2 separate regions of the Homo sapiens genome follow, and region 1 is linked to region 2. Evidence: fine-mapped expression QTL. A gene starts in region 2. The other region holds a variant in brackets. All regions are shown on one strand. Distances are between the middles of the regions. Region 1 has its middle 14 kb from the start of TRR-TCT4-1. Region 2 holds the start of AIM2 (absent in melanoma 2).

Region 1 (9,089 bases), 79 kb after region 2:
GCCTGATTTCCCTGGCCAGAATTTCCAATACTATGTTGAATAGGAGTGGTGAGAGAGAGCACCCTTGTCTTGTGCCAGTTTTCAAAGGGAATGCTTGCAGCTTTTGCCCACTCAGTGTGATATTGGCTGTGGGTTTGTCATAAATAGCTCTTATTATTTTGAGATATGTTCCATCAGTACCTAGTTTATTGAGTGTTTGTAGCTTGAAGGGATGTTGAATTTTATCGAAGGCCTTGTCTGCATCTATTCAGATAATCATATGGTTTTTGTCATTGGGTCTGTTTATGTGATGGATTATGTTTATTGATTTGCATATGTTGAATCCATCTCAAGGATGAAGCCGACTTGATCGTGGTGAATAACCTTTTTGAGGTGCTGCTGGATTTGCTTTGCCATTATTTTATTGAGGGGAATCCCCAACATAATCTTTACACAAAGAGTGCAGGGAAGGGAAGAGCAGAATGCTTTGCATTTATTCTTAACTGGTAAACTAGAAAATCAAAAGCATCAAATAACCTCTTATTGGAATCACAGAATGCTCAAAATGGAAAAGGGTTTTAAAATAATCAAGTCTCTTTTATTCATGGATCAGCTGAATTTTTGTCACATATTCTTATTACTTTTATAAATTTAGAGAAAAACTAATTTGAAGATCAAACCGATAATGCTAAGTGGGTGAATGTTTGCTCTTTATACTCTATATTTCTGTAGTCTGTAATTTTTGTCAAGCCTCTCCATCTGTAATTACATAGATTAATAAACTCAGAACCACAGAAATTAAATCATGTATCCAATATCACAAAAATAGACAAACAGTTATGATCCAATTAGAAAACTATAGACTTTCAAGTTGGGATACCCAGGGTTTGAATCTCAGCTGTGTATGATGATGGACACCTAAAGGCACCTAAATGATCTCTGAGATTCAAATTACTTATCTGATTTTAAAAATCCATAGAAGTGGCCGGGCGCAGTAGCTCACACTTGTAATCCCAGCACTTTGGGAGGCCAAGGCGGGCAGATCACTAGGTTAGGAGTTCGAGACCAGCCTGGCCAATACAGTGAAACCCCATCTCTACTAAAAATACAAAAAATTAGCCAGGTGTGGTGGTGGACGCCTGTAATCCCAGCTACTTGGGAGGCTGAGGCAGGAGAATCGCTTGAACCTGGGAGGCAGAGGTTGCAGTGAGCCGAGATCGTGCCACTGCACTCCAGCCCAGGTGACAGTGTGAGATTCCATCTCAAAAAAAAAAAAATTTACAGAAGTAATAATATCTATCTTGTAAAGTCATTATAAGAAATAAGTGTGATAAAGAAAGAGAAAATCTTTAGTAGACTAGCACCGAACGGTCTTTATTTTTAGGAAGAATAGTTAATGCTTTGGTTCTTTCCCCTTTACCCCATCCATTCCTCAACTGACTCCACTCTAGCAACTGTTAAATGTCCTCACTAAAGTCACTAATGGCTTGTTGCTAATTGTCAAATTCAATAGTTTCACTTCACGTTTCTGCAGCATTCCACACTAGTGACCCCATCTTCACCCTTAGAAATGCTGACTCCTCTTGCTTCTGGGGCATGCCACTCTCTTCTCATTCACCTCCTATCCCTCAGTCCCTCCTTCTCAATCTCTTTCACCAGCTCCTCCTCTTCCTTCTTAAATATCAGTGTTCCAAAGAGTGACACTTATCAGATTGCAAGCCAGAAGGTTAGCAGTACTTTTATATTATTAAATAGCAGAGAAAAGAGATGATAGAATAGGATATGACAGAATAGAAAAGAAAATAGCCGAGGGTATCACCCTCTAAAAAAACCATGTATTGTTTCATGAAATCTTTGTATCAGCTACATATGAATGTATATATATAGGTATATGAGTTGTGGTCAAAAACACTGCCATACATTGTACCTTGGTGCTCTTCTTTATATCTTCTTCCTGGGTGATTGTAAACGGCATATGTACCATATGTACTACCAGCTATGAGCTGAAAACCCTTAAATCTCTATCTTAAAATCAGACATATCACGTGAAATCCAGATTGGGATACTCAGCTGCCTTTAGATTGCCATCCCTATGTGACTCACAGTGATCTCAACTGCAAAATGTACAAATAAGAACTTATATTTCCCCATAAACCTGTTCTTCATAATCCACTAGTTTATTCATTTTTTTTTTTTTTGAGACGGAATCTCGCTCTGTCACCCAGGCTGGAGTGCAGTGGTGCAGTCTCAGCCCACTACAACCTCTGCCTCCTGGGCTAAGCAATTCTTCTGCCTCAGCCTCCCTAGTAGCTGGGATTACAGGCACCTGCCACCATGCCCAGCTAATTTTTGTATTTTAGCAGAGACAGGGTTTCACCATGTTGGCTGGGCAGGTCTCGAACTCCTGACCTCAGGTGATCCGCCCGCCTCGGCCTCCAAAAGTGCTGGGATTACAGGGGTGAGCCACAACACCCGGCCTAATCCACTAGTTTAATTAATGGTTACCATCATCCACCTACTCATTTATTAATTTATTTGCTCCATAAATCCATAAATACCTACTGTATAATAAGAAATGTGCTGAGTATTGGAGATATAAAGATAATGATGATATGTCTATTCTGAATAAAAATCACAGTCAAAAACAGAAAAATAAACAAAGTCATGAAACAAAGTTGCCCAACTCTAGAAATCATATGTCCAGCATGCTACAAAAACAAAAATGGGCAAATGAATCCAGTCTGAGGAGTCTAAGAACGTTTTCTAGAGCTGCAGACCTAAGCTGAGGTTCAAAGTAAGAATAGCTGTAAACAGAGCAAAAGAAGAGGTTAGGGAGGGATGGGGACAGAGATTTTGTGTGTGTGTGTGTGTGTGTGTGTGTGTGTGTGTGTGTGTGTGTTGGGGGAGCCAAGGAGATAAGACAGGAAAGCATGAGTAAAAATACAGCAAAAACCATCTTGTCTGTGTAAGAAACTACAAGAAATGAGAGATATTGCTGAAGTTCAAAATCCCAGGCAGGAAGTGACAAGGCATGTGGAAACAAAAATCAGACCATGCAGATCGACATATGTCATGTTAAAGGTCAACTGTAATCCTGTAGGAGATGCAGAGGCAGTGAAGGGTTTTAAGTAAGGGAGAACGATGATTTGATTTGCATTTTAGAAAGATCACTCTGGCTGTAGCAGATAATTTCAAGAGTGCACAGTGAAGAGGCTTTTTCAGTAGTCAAGGTAAGATATAATGGAGATCTGAACCACAGTAATAGAATTGGCTACATAACAGTAAATTGAAGGAAGATTGATTTGATAAAAACAGTTTTGGGGAGACAAAACTGGCCATCCAGTCTCTTAAGCCAGAAATGTGGAGTGAGTCAAGGCTCCTCTCCCTAAAACTTTATCTTCCAAATTTAATCAGCTACTAAGGTCTATCCACTCTGTCTCTTTAATAGCTCTCAAATGTATGCCTCACTTTCCATTCCCACTGCTCTTGGCTTAGTTCAGATAGTTTATCCTCTGTAGCCAGGACTATTTGTTTGTTTATTTATTTATTTAGTTATTTTGTTTTTTTTATTAGAGTTTAAGTTCTAGGGTACATGTGCACAATGTGCAGGTTTGTTACATAGGTATACATGTGCCATGTTGGTTTGCTGCACCCATCAACTCATCATTTACGTTAGGTATTTCTCCTAATGCTATCCCTCCCCCAGCTCCCCACCCTCTGACAGGCACCAGTGTGTGATGTTCCCTGCTCTGTGTCCAAGTGTTCTTATTGTTCAATTCCCACCTATGAGTGAGAACATGCGGTGTTTGGTTTTCTGTCCTTGTGATAGTTTGCTGAGAATGATGATTTCCAGCTTCATTCATGTCCCTGCAAAGGACATGAACTCATCCTTTTTATGGCTGCATAGTATTCCATGGTATATATGTGCCACATTTTCTTAATCCAGTCTATCATCAATGCTTATTTGGGTTGGTTCCAAGTCTTTGCTATTGTGAATAACGCCACAATAAACATACATGTGCATGTGTCTTTATAGTAGCATGATTTATAATCCTTTGGGTATATACCAGTAATGGGATTGCTGGGTCAAATGGTATTTCTAGTTCTAGATCCTCGAGGAATCGCCACACTGTCTTCCACAATGGTTAAACTAATCTACACTCTCACCAACAGGGTAAAAG[C/T]TTTCCTAATTCTCCACATCCTCTCCAGCATCTTTTGTTTCCTGACTTTTTAATGATCGCCATTCTGACTGATGTGAGATGGTATCTCATTGTGGTTTTGATTTGCATTTCTCTGATGACCAGCGATGATGAACATTTTTTCATGTGTCTGTTGGCTGCGTAAATGTCTTCTTTTGAGAAGTGTCTGTTCATATCCTTTGCCCACTTTTTGAGGGGGTTATTTTTTTCTTGTAAATTTGTTTGAGTTCTTTGTAGATTCTGGATATTAGCCCTTTGTCAGATGGGTAGACTGCAAAAATTTTTCTCCCATTCTGTAGGTTGCCTGTTCACTCTGATGATAGTTTCTTTTGCTGTGCAGAAGCTCTTGAGTTTAATTAGATCCCATTTGTCTATTTGGGCTTTTGTTGCCATTGCTTTTGGTGTTTTAGTCATGAAGTCCCTGCCCATACCTATGTCCTGAATGGTATTGCCTAGGTTTTCTTCTAGGGTTTTTATGGTTTTAGGTCTTATGTTTAAGTCTTTTAATCCATCTTGAATTAATTTTTGTAAAAGGTGTAAGGAAGGGATCCAGTTTCAGCTTTCTACACATGGCTAGCCAGTTTTCCCAATACCACTTATTAAATAGGGAATCTTTTCCCCATTTCTTGTTTTTGTCAGGTTTGTCAAAGATCAGATGGTTGTAGATGCGTGGTGTTATTTCTGAGGCCTCTGTTCTGTTTCATTGGTCTATATATCTGATTTGGTACCAGTACCATGCTGTTTTGGTTACTGTATCTTTGTAGTATAGTTTGAAGTCAGGTAGCGTTATGCCTCCAGCTTTGTTCTTTTGGCTTAGGATTGTCTTGGCAATGCGGGCTCTTTTTTGGTTCCATATGAACTTTAGTTTTCTCCAATTCTGTGAAGAAAGTCATTGGTAGCTTGATGGGGATGGCATTGAATCTATAAATTACTTCAGGCAGTATGGCCATTTTCACGATATTGATTCTTCCTATCCATGAGCAAGGAATGTTTTTACATTTGTTTGTGTCCTCTTTTATTTCCTTGAGCAGTGCTTTGCAGTTCTCCTTGAAGAGGTCCTTCACATCCCTTGTAAGTTGGATTCCTAGGTATTTTATTCTCTTTGAAGCAATTGTGAATGGGAGTTCACTCATGTTTTGGCTCTCTGTCTGTTATTGGTGGAGAATAGGAATGCTTATGATTTTTGCACATTGATTTTGTATCCTGAGACTTTGCTGAAGTTGCTTATCAGCTTAAGAGTTTTGGGGCTGAGAAGATGGGGTTTTCTAAGTATACAATCTTGTCATCTGCAAACAGGGACAATTTGACTTCCTCTTTTCCTAATTGAATACCCTTTATTTCCTTCTCCTGCCTGATTGCCCTGGCCAGAACTTCCAATACAATGTTGAATAGGAGTGATGAGAGAGGGCATCCTTGTCTGGTGCCAGTTTTATAAGGGAATGCTTCCAGTTTTTGCCCATTCAGTATGATATTGGCTGTGGGTTTGTCATAAATAGCTCTTATTATTTTGAGATACCTTCCATCAATACCTAGTTTATTGAGAGTTTTTAGCTTGAAGGGGTGTTGAATTTTGTCAAAGGCCTTCTCTGCATCTATTGAGATAATCATGTGGTTTTTGTCGTTGGATCTGTTCATGTGATGGATTACGTTTATTGATTTGTGTATGTTGAACCAGCCTTGCATCCCAGGGATGAAGCTGACTTGATCATGGTGGGTAAGCTTTTTGATGTGCTGCTGGATTTGGATTGCCAGTATTTTATTGAGGATTTTCACATCAATGTTCATCAGGGATATTGGTCTAAAATTCTCTTTTTTTGTTGTGTTTCTGCCAGGCTTTGGTATCAGGATGATGCAGCCAGGACTATTTGATATGTTAATAATCCCTCACTTGTCTACGTGTAACCATCCCTGCTGCCTTTCTGCCAATCAGCTACACCACCAACAGAGCAATTATAATTTTTCTTGAAGGCAAAACCCCTTAAAGTTCTCTCTTGTCTAAAGAAGAGACTAAAAGCCATCTGTGATCTGATTCCCGTCCATTTTTGCAACATCAGTTACTATTATCCCCCAGCCTCCCCTCTCAGCTTACATTTTACAATAAGTACTTAGAGTTCTCAAAATGAAAAAAAAAAGGTTCGTTTTCCATACTAATATGACTTGGTATGCTGCAATGGTTTCTCTTTTTGGAATGCCTTTCTCCTGTCTCCACCCTCACATCTGTCTGGAAGACTGTTCCTCCTCTTTGAAGACTCAGTTTCAATCACCTCATTTTTTATAATATCTTCCCTGACATCCACCACAACCCCAAGCAGACTGGATCACACCCATCTTCACACCATTACTGCACCCTGTGCATATGGCTATCGGAGGACTGAGCACTCTGTAACGTACTCAATTTTGTGAATCTCTGTTCCTACCAGAGAGAGAGAAACTTGAGTTTTTTTACCCTTGATAGTCTGGGCAGTGCCTGGCACATGGTAGTTGTTCAATGTATGTTTACCAAAGAAAAAGAATCAACAATCAAAACCACTAGAACAGGTCTTTGTCCTCCTAGACACATATCATCCTATAATACCACAGTTCTTGATTTTTGTAATGCAAGTATTAGATGGGAACTCTTAAAATGACACTGAGAACTTTAGGCTTCTTCTGCTGGTCTACTTCAAAGTGGTAGAACGTTCAACTTTCTCCAGAGCTCCAGTTTTCATATCCAGTCTATTCAATATTTCCTACTTGATGGGTTGCCCTCAGCTTAAACTCAATGTAATCTAACAAAATTGTTACAAATTGATTATGTCTCCTGCAAATTTAGATGTTAACACTCTAATCCCTCATGTATTTAGATGTGAGTCCTATGAGAGGTGATTTGGTCATGAAGGTGGAACTCTAATAAATGGAATTAGTGTCATTATAAGAAGAGACACAGGGAGACAATCTCTTTTTCCACCATGTGAAGACACATTGAGAAGGTGGCTGTCTGCAAACCACGAAGAGGACACTCAACAGGAATCAAATCCACCAGTACCTTGATCTTGGACTTCCCAGCCTCCAGAACTGTGAGAAACCAAAGTCTGTTGTTTAAGCCACATAGTTTATGGTATTCTGTTTTAGCAGCCTCAAGTAAGACACTAATCCTCCTTCATTCCAAAATACTAAACCCCACAAAAAGCTTCTCCTAATTCCACTATTTCTTTTCATGGTTCAGCATTTTCCAAGTCACTCAAAAGCCAAAACTGAGAGCTGCCTCAGCCTTCTCCCTCTGTCTTGCTTCCCATAACCAACACCAAACGTAGCACCTCTTTTCCATTCCCAATTCCACTGCCCTTGCTCAGGACTCTTTTACTTTGTTCCTGGATTTCTATAATCATCTTTTAACTCATATTCTTAGAATAAGCATTTAATTTAAAAAAAATTAATCATTCAATACATAGGCACACATTATAAAAATATGAAGTATATAATATGGACAATTATAGTCCCCCTTATGACTTAAGTCTCACTCCTGGCCCAGAAAATAATTTTCCAAGTTTAATATGCATCTGAACAATAGAAACACTCAAGTGCCTACTATGTGCCAGGCGCTATTTAAAGCAATTTAAATAGATTAATTTATTTAATTTTCACATCATACCACCCTAGGGGTCATGTAAAATTATCTCTATTTTCCACACAATGAAAAAAAATGCTGAGGCGGTTAAGTATCTTGCCTGAAGTCACACAGCCAGTAAGTAACTATTCATTTACTTAAACACATATTTATATGCATATAAGATTTTACATACACATATGTATATGTTTTATGCTTTTTTCCCATTTTACACAAAAGGGATAGCAGTATGTGTATTTTCTTTGTATTTTCACTGAACAACATACCTTCTGTATCTTTCTATGTTGGTAGATATAAATTTACCTCATTCTTTTTAACTGCAATGTGTTATTACAAAGTATGATATAGCATAATCTATTTATCCAATTCACTATTGATGAATATTTATGTTGTCTTCAATTTTTCACTACTGGAAAAAAATGATGTGATGCATATCTCTGCACATAAATCAGAGCACTCATGTGTGAACAGATCTATAGCATAATTTGTAGAAATAGCACTGCTGGTATTTCTATTTTTAATTCTGATGCATTCTGCCAAAATATCTCCAAAAAGGCTGTGCCAATTTACATCCTCCCTAACAATATATAAAGGTGCCTATTTCCCTAAGCACTTGCCAACACTGAGTATTATCCATCATTTTAATTTTTTAACAATCTGATGGGTTCTTTGATGCTTTTTAACAGTCTAGGATCTCTTTGGTGCTATAACTTGTATTTCTCAAAATCCAAATGCCGTTGATCATCTTTTCAAATGTTTATTAGACAACTGTATTTTTTTTCTGAGAATTCATACTCATATCCTTTGCCCAATTTTCTCTTGGACTGTTTGTCTTTTTTATGTTTATTTGCTGACTATTTTGCATGTTAGCAATTTTGATACTTTGGCATATATATTGCAAATAAAATCTTCCCAGTCTGTGACTTACTTTTACATTTTGTCTATGGGTCTGCAATTATATCAGTTTTAAAAATTATGCAGTAAATCTTATCGGTCCTTTCCTTTATCGACTCTAGGTGTTGTGTCTTGCTTAGGAAGGTCTTTCCCACTCTAAGATTAAGTATATTTTTCGACAGTTTTTGCAAACATTTTTAGTGTTGTTTGGTTTATAAAATTTAGCACAAGTCCACCTGAAATATATTGTCGTATATGGCATAAGGAAAGGCTAAACCTATCCCATACCAACTGACAAACAGATAACCAATTATTCTAATGTCTTTAAACAGTACAACCCTCTAGTCACTGATTAGAAGTGTAGTATATAATGAAGGTAGCACTCTTCATACACTAAATTTCCAAGTTGG
Region 2 (9,089 bases):
TTGAGACAGGGTCTCACTGTTGTTGCCCAGGCAGGAGTGCAGAGGTGTGATCTCAGCTCACTGCAACCTCTCCCTCCCAGGTTCAAGTGATTCTCGTGCCTCAGCCTCCCAAGTAGCTGGCATTACAGATGCCCGCCACCATGCCTGGCTAATTTTTGTATTTTTAGTAGAGACAAAGTTTCACTATGTTGGCCAGGCTGATCTCGAACTCCTGAACTCAAGTGATCCACCCGCCTTGGCCTCCCAAAGTGCTGGGATTAAAGGCGTGAGCCACTGCGCCTGGCCCAAAAGCATACTTTGAATCCTACAACTGTTACATTTGGAGACTCTCATTTGGGAGAGTCCTTGGATAATCTACTCCTGAGTTTCCAAGCTAGTCCCAAACTGGATCTTTTTTAGCTAAGCAGAATAACAAAATCCCAGAATCATTAGAATAGCAAAATGGGGAGAAGATTGTAGAAGGGGAAATTTTGTTCTATCCTGGTCAAAGAGAAGAATTAATTCTTGATTTATTACCAAAATAAAAGATATTTCTAAATATCTCAGCCTATGTTTGCCAATATGCCTAGATTCCTGGCTCATCCCAGATAAGAAAAACACAGGGCAATGTTTTGGTTGGTTACTTGGAAGTAACATGTGTAGTTACTGCCATCTAAGGGCCATCTCTAAGAACTACACCTTCTAACTTAAAGCCTGGGAAAACCACCACTCCTTTCTCTTTAGTGCCTTAGAAACTACCTAACAGTTTATATCTGTATAGAATTATGAATGTACATAGTATCACTTATGTGGCTTCATTTAGCCTTCCTATAACTCATGTGTGAGAAGCCATGTCACCCTTGTTGTACACCCACAAATGCTACTAAAAGCTATTATAATTTTTGCTGCTACTGTTGTACTTTGAATCCTAAAACTGTTGCATTTGGAGACTTTCATTTTGGAGAGTCCTTGAGTGATATGCTCCTCTGTTAGCTCCTTTTTGTTCTTCAGACATAAAGCTGGGACATATCAATTGTTCTTAGTAAACAAAATCAGGAATTTAAACTAAATGTAGATAATTCAGATGGAGATGAGTGATTTATTGAATAATGTAAAAAAAATCTTTGTGTTGTGGGTAATTTATACTGTCACCTGTACTGGAGATAGAGAGGAAAGAAAATCCCTGAAGGTGGATTCTCCCTCCCTTCTGAAGAAGGAGGAGATCATCGCCTAAAGAAGGATAGTCTGGGACCACAGAAAGCTGGGGACAAGGAGAGGAATAGACAGACTGTGTGAAGGAAAAAAGGTGCTCAATATCCTGGTTTACAGTTTTCCAATGCAATAATTTATACTTTCAAGACTTCAGTAGAATGTGACAGCATTACATACTGTGTAAATGGAGTTGGGAGAAGTTAACTTTGAAATTCTACGTCCATATTCACTGCAACTGAACTGGAGACAAAGATGGGCAAGGAGAAAAGATGTTAAATGGAAGTGGTAACCCTAAGGCTGGAAGAAGAGATGCAAACAAAGGCTGGAATGGATTTGTGGAATTTGTAACAAACACTTCCTAGAAGCGATTCTCAGTAAAAGGGGGCAAAGAGACAGGTGCACTAAGTTAGCAAACAAATTCCAACAATGTGCACTGGGGGTCATATCCCAGGGATGCCATGAAAGGAAAGGCCCAGGCTTGGCAGAAAAAGGGACGGGGCAGGTGTGGAACTCCCACATTACCTTTCTCCTTCTCCTCCTGAAGACGTTTTGCCAAAAGCATATAATTCAACTTCTGAAAAATACGAATGGTCTTCATCACTGCAGACACCGCCCCAGCATTTTGAATCATCAAGGTAGCTACTTGTATTCTGTTTGCAGTATGTAGTTTGCCTGTGGCAATATTAAACTCGTCTGAAAGAAAGAACTTAAACCTATCCAGTTCCTCATCAGTGATGTTATCCAGGCCTGTTAGCAAGAGTATCTCCTTGTATTTACTCTCCATCTGACAACTTTGGGATCAGCCTATAAGGAATCCAAAACATGTAAGATTACACCACCAAAAGTGATTCTACATTCAAAATAAAGCAAGGTGAGCTATTAATATTTTTTAAAGAAAAATAAAATATTTGCAGTAGTAAAAGAGATTTGAGTAGGACATAGGTAAGAACTTCTTAAGCAAGGTGATCACTACTCCTGGGAAAGACATCTTCAGAAAGTATACAACACCTCTGGAATTCTCAGAAAACAAGATACATTAGCTGGGCGCGGTAGCTCACGCCTGTAATAATCCCAGCACTTTGGAAGGCCAAGGTGGGCGGATCACCTGCGGTCAGGAGTTTGAGACCAGACTGGCCAATATGGCAAAACCCCATCTCTACTAAAAGTACAAAAATTAGCCGAGCATGGTGGTGGGCGCCTGTAATCCCAACTACTCAGGAGGCTGAGGCAGGAGAATTATTTGAACCTGGGAGGTGGAGGTTGCAGTGAGCCAAGATCGCGCCATTGCACTCCAGCCTGGGCAACAGGAGCGAAACTTCATCTCAAAACAACAACAACAACAACAACAAAAAGGAAACAGGATACATTTTCCTGTTATTTTTAAAATAGATTTATCGAGGCATAACTGGCATACAACACGGTGCATACACTGGAAGTATACAATCTGATAAATTTTGGCATATACATATACCTGATGAAGTGCAATTAATCAATCTGTTCTTTCATGGATCATGCTTTCAGTGTCTTATTTAAGAAATCTTTTCCAATCTCAAGATTAGAAGATTTTATGTCTTCCTGTAAGAATTTTACGGTTTGATCATTTCACATTTGGCTGTATGTACTGCTTTGAGTTAATTTGTATATGATATAAGTGATGATTCAAAGTTCATTTATTTTTCATATGAATATGAATTTTCCCAGAATCATATGTTAAAAAGACTGTCATTTTTAATGATTTTTTTTTTTACCTTTGCAAAAATCAGTTGTCCAAATATGAGTGAGTCTATTTCTGGATTCTTTATTCTGTCCATCAACCTATTTTTGTAACTTGTTGCCAAAATCACGTTGTAGTAATATAGTTGTTTATGTATAGTATCCAAAATAATACACAAAACATTATAAATAATAATTCAACAGTTTATAACTATAAGATTAATATACAGAAATGCATTCCTTTATTTTAGTACCACTCCAAGAGAGAAAAAAATTACATAAAAAAAGTAATTTCCAATAGCAACAAAACTACAAAGTACATAAGAACATCGAATACAATATATTTAAGAGTTTTAAAGGGAAACTTATAAAACTTTATTGGGAGATTTAAAGGACCTACTTAAGTGGGTGTATGTCTGATATTTTAAATGGGAAGATTTGATAAAATGAAGACAGCAGTGTTGTCAAATTAATCTATAAACTCCTATCCAAAATCTCAAAGGGTTTTTCATAGAATTTATCAGAATGATCCTAAAACCTAAATGAAAAAAATAAAGACAAAAACCTGCAAAACAAGTTGAATATGTTTATCAGGATGTACTATCCCTACTACTAGGTATCAATACTTACTACAAATGTATAATTATTAAATCAGTATGGCAGTGGCGTAGAAAAAAATGAACTAATAAATAGAGTGTGGAAACAGGACCACATGTAAATTAAAGCTTGGTATATAATCAAAGTGGCATTAAAAATCACAAGGAAAGAATGGCCAACTATAAAAAGTGTTCAGACAAATGACAATACACAGGGAATGATATATTCAGCCTTTCTCTTATATCATACACAAAATATATATCTGGTTGGATTAATTATCTAAATAGAATAGTAATGATGTTGAATAAAACACAGAATTTCTCAATACATTGAAGTAGAAGGAGGTTCCTTAAATAAGGCACAAAAAGGACAAGCCAGAAAAAAAAAATTTGTCAAATGTGATTGCATGCATATTCTCAATTTCTTTGTAGGAAACACACACATCCGTGCACACACACACACTAAACAAAGTGATTATACAAGGCAAAAACTGGGCAGATACCTGCAATACACACACACACACACACACACACACACACACACACACACATATATATATGGCTATACCTGCTATATATATATATATAGAGAGAGAGAGAGAGAGAGAGAGCTAATAGAGGTTTTGCTTTTGGAATACATGGAGAACCATGTATCAATAAGAAAACAACAGTCTATTTGAAAAGTGTGCAAAAGATGTGAATGAGCAATTTGCTCAAATATCCAATAAACATAAAAAAGATGTTTGACATTATTAGCAATTAATGACTTCCAGAGCAGCAACATATAAAGTGGAAGAAATAAGCCAAAGAACAGGAAAAGATGTTTATGAGCTGAAAATAACTGATTGTGAATTTTAGGGAAGCTTGAATACCCCCATCAGTAGAGTCAATGTTAATAAATTCTAAACTATCACTGTTAATGGCCTTATAATGTTTTTTCCTATATGTTGGTAAGCGCTGGAGAAACTCTACTTATACATGTAGAGTTCATGAGTGAAAATTAAAACTATTATCAGGACCATTTTCAAAATAAGGAATACATTAAAAATATTTGCAATGATAAAGCCATCCAAATGCCCCCATCCTACTGATGAAAGCAAGGAAGGACACTACCTTTGTTGAATATCTACTGTGACAATCAGCTTGGATGATTCCTACTTTTCTACTTGTCCATAAGAAGCTAATCTTCCTATAACCCTCTTATATAATAACAATCACATTTTAATCACATTTTATGTGATTGACTCAGTTTTTTCTCTGAAGTTATGTTGCCTTATAAATGAAAAACTTGCATTTTACTTCATAATATCTGTTAACTTAAAAAATGCTTGTATTTGCTATTGGCATAAAAGTCAGCCTTACAAATAGGCTGATAGACAAACCCCAAAGGAAGCCGAAGCTTAAGGAACACCAGCTCAGAGACACCAGAGGACATGGCTAAAGTGAATAAAAGAGAAATGAACCCATCCTTTCAGAGCTGATGTCCATGTTTGCAGGTTCAGGTTCTCAGAGGTGTGCACAGCATGGCTGGCCTTTCCTCAGTTGTCTTTTTCAGCAGAGAAACGGTTAAGTCTCTCGTCTCTAACCCAGCTCCTCTATGGTGCTTACCTCCTGATCCCTGGGGCGATCAGCAAACCGGGTCTGCCACCTTCTTTTCAGAGAGCTTAACTAGCAGAGGACTCAGGAGAGCATGCCCAAATAACCTAGGTGACTTTCAAAGCTACAAAGACTCTGACACTTCTGGACGGCTTCACATGTACCCCTAATAAACACTTCCCTTCACCCCCAGGCCCAGTGTGGGTAGGAGTGACAACTGGAGCTCTAATTGGCTGAGCTGGTTTGGGTTCTCACTAGCAGCCACAGAAGAAAATGTCTATAGAAACTTGTATCTGAGTCATGCCACATAGGAACTACACTGATTGGAAACAGAAAGTGGCCTAGAAACTGTAAAAAATGACCGCAGATGACTTCTTGATACACTTTGTGACTAAGGGGCCTGGTGATGACATTTTTCTGGTATAAACAAGCACACTGATCTCAGAGGGTATCTAAAAGTGTTGCCAGTAGGGCAGTGCAGGTTCTTGTCTTCAAAGCATAAGAGAATCTGAAAATGAGACCCAAGCGAAAGTATAGACATTTTATTGTGGAGCAAAACCAACGACACCCTCAAGGGAGGAGTGCAGGCACTCAAAGATTTGAGTCACAGGCAATGTGGTTCACGTACTATATGAATAAGCACAATGAAGGTATGGAGTACTCTGTAATCAAGGGGAGGGGTTTTCTGGGAAATGGGCGGGCAATTCCCGGAATCGGGGTGCCACCCTTTTCTTGACTAAAGATGGTTAATCCGGAACTGTCATGGCGTCAGGTGCATGATGGGAGTGGGAATTTCCCCATGGAAGTTTTATGATATTAAGGGCATAATGAAGCTAAGGGTCAGCAGTCAGCCAAGTTTTCGACCATCTTGGCTTTAACCAGTTGCGGCCAGTTTCTTCTGTGTTACATTCTCATCTGTGCCTAAGTAGGAAGTTTGCAATCTGTCTTCATTGTCACAGGCTGTTGTAACAGTTCCTATCTACTAGTGGGGCAATCCCTCTGCTAACCTTTTTGACCGCATTTTTATTGCTTGTAGCCACCTGCAAGTAATCATGCCTCATTCCCTCACTGACTGCTTGCCTCAAAAGCATATATACAGTCTTTCTTCCTAACCCAGGCTCCTAACCCTAAATTCAGAGCTTGAGGGCTTGATTCTAGTCAGCAATTTACTTGAGGTTTTCCTTTCTTATTCATTGAATTAACAATTATGCACTGAACATCTAATATGATGTATTAGATTCTGAGAATATAAAAGTTAGTAAGACAAAGTTCCAGATGTTGAGCGGCTCTGCCAAGTCATGAAAACAGACATGTGATTTAATAATCACAATAGGACATGATGATAAGTGTTATAATTAAAGCATGCTCAAGATGCTCAAGGAGCAGAGGAAGAGCACCTAACCATGCCCAGGTAATCAGCCCAGAGCTGCAGGACCTCCTTCACTTTCTACTGCAAGGCTTGTTTCTACACTTTTGCCAGCTTTCAGCTCAAATAGCACCTTATCTGTGGGGCTTCTCTGACCAGCATGTTCTCTACCTCTTCCCCACATTATCTTTTCCCACACGTGTTACTGACCATCATCTGACATACGGTATATGTCATTTGTTTGTTTATTCTCTGCCTCATGCTCCTAAAATGTAAGGCACATGAGGGAAGAGATTTCTGCCCACTGGCTCACTGCATCCACTTCACCTGACACAGTGCCAGGCACAGAGAAGGTGTTCAGAAAATATTCGTTGAATGAGTGAATGCATGAATGAGTGGATCACACAAGGCGAAAGAACACCAAAGAGAACAATATGTAAGAATTAAAAAGATGTGAAGTGTATGAATTTGGTAACCTACTGAGTAAACGAGAGAAAGCTCCCTGTTGAGGAAGAACCCAACAAGCACCAACCCCAGAGAGGCGTACTGATTTGAGGCTTCAGGTCCTGTAAAAGGTGAGTTAAGTGATTAAGCTGGGAAGTGGTCTCAATGAGGAGCAGGTACACTGCTGCACCTGGGGCAGAGAGACAAGTACTCATCGTCCAGCTTTGTTTTACCAAGAAATTTAATCAGAGAGATACCCAACTTGGTGACACAAGACACAGAAGGGAAAGGAGGCAACTGTGCTGAAAAAGGAGGTTTGTTAACAGTCTCACGGAGAAAAGTGGGATCCCCAAGCCCTTTCCTCCCTGACTTCTAGAGTACTGACAGCAAGGTTTATGCCATAAGCAGAAGACTGGAGGCTCCTACTGTAGCAACTGGCCCAAGAAGGGAAAAACTCTCACCGTTACTGACATTTTGAGTTTTCCAATACAAAGACTCAGGCCCTTTCGTGCCAATCCTATAATTAAACTAACTCATAAATAAACCAGGCCAACGCAAAAAGAATTCAAGTCAGTTTTGTGTGTATACATGTATGGACATTTCTTTCTTAAATATGAGTAAACAGACATAAATAACATTCAGAAAAGCCTCCAACTTAAAAAAAAAACAGAAAACAAATCAGAAGAAGGAACTTAAGGACAAAGCAGAGGGTAGAAGAAGAAATATATATGGTCATCAGAGAGATAAGAAAAGACATTGCATCCATGAAACAAAAAGACAGTGCTAATACTTGTAAAAAATGAACAAATTACAGAAGAGATTTTATAAATATATTTTCTAAATGTGATAGCAGAAAAGTTTTAAAGCTAATAGAGTGATAAAGCTGAAGATCTCTTTCTAAAAGTATGCCTAGAAAAGAATAAAATGGAAAAACAGGAGAGAAAAAAAATAAGAAATATACAGGTTTATGCCCCGATGAATAATAACCAGCTAATAAGCATTTAAACAAGAGCGAATGGAGAAAAAAGCAAGTTATCAAATAAATACCGAATTTGATGAATGAGAAAGAACACACACAAAAGCATGTCACTTTGCATTTTTTTTCCAGTTTTTTTCTTTTTAGTAGACTTTATTTTTTAAAGCAGTTTTAGGCTCACAGTAAAATTGAGCTGAAGGTACAGGTTTCCATATACCCTTTTCCCTCACACATGCACAGCCTCCCCATTATCAACATTCCCACCAGGGTGGACTGAGCATGACACATCATTATCACCCAGACTCCAGAGTTGCCACTAGGGTACACTTGGTGTTGTACATTCTGTGGGTTTGGACAAATGTATAATGAGTATCCACCCTCACAGTATCATACAGGGTGGTTTCCCTGCCCTAAAATCCTCTGTGCTCTGTCTAGTCATCTCTCTCCCGACAAATCCTGGCAACCACTGATCTTTTTACTGTCTCTATAGTTTTGCTGTTTCTGGAATTTCATATAGTTGAAGTCATACAGTATATAGCCTTTTCAGATTGTCTTCTTTCACTTGGTAATCTGCATTTAAGATTCCTCCATGGTTTTTCATGGCTTGATGGCTCATTTCTTTTTAGCACTAAAAAATATTCCATTGTCTCCATTTATCTGTTTATCCATTCACCTACTGAAGAACACGTTGGTTGCTTCCAAGTTTTGGCAATTACGAATAAACCTTCTATAAATATCTGTGTGCATGTTTTTATGTGGACTTAATTTTTCAACTTTGGGTAAATATCAAGGAATGCAATTGCTGTGTTGTATAATAAGATATAATAAGAGTATGTTTAGTCTTGTAAGAAACCACTAATTGGTTTTTAATACAATGATTTGGTCAATAAATGTTTATGAGCAAACGAAAGGTATCTAATAAGTACTGCATTGAACAGTTTTAAGAATAAGGAGAAAATCTATGACTCTGAAGACTTTCATATCTTGTCCATAGATTTCTTAAAAAGGTATACTTTAGAAATACATCATATAAAGAATTGTTCAGACTTGTTTAGTGATGCCTCAATTTCAGAACTTTTGTAAAGAAATCACAAGTAAAAGCAAACACCTCAATGCAATTAAATGCTAATTTTAAAAAATGTATCCTTTAAACAGTGGTTTCCAAACTTTAGCATGCATTAGAATTTCCTGGGGGAAGCTTGTGAAA

The links. PIP is the estimated chance that this variant, and not a neighbour inherited with it, causes the effect.
Region 1: its variant is fine-mapped to the expression of AIM2 in whole blood (TOPMed, PIP above 0.99).

What each region holds. Positions count from the first base shown.
Region 1 is chr1:159,150,717-159,159,805 of GRCh38, forward strand. No RefSeq gene overlaps it. Among named protein-coding and RNA genes, the nearest start is that of TRR-TCT4-1, 14 kb to the left of the region's middle. The variant C/T (reference allele first, on the strand shown) is at 4,161.
Region 2 is chr1:159,071,525-159,080,613 of GRCh38, forward strand. AIM2 (absent in melanoma 2) reads right to left here and starts at 5,242. Exons shown (of 6, transcript NM_004833.3): 1 at 5,109-5,242; 2 at 1,714-1,995. The coding sequence starts at 1,975. RefSeq lists an enhancer at 5,684-5,983.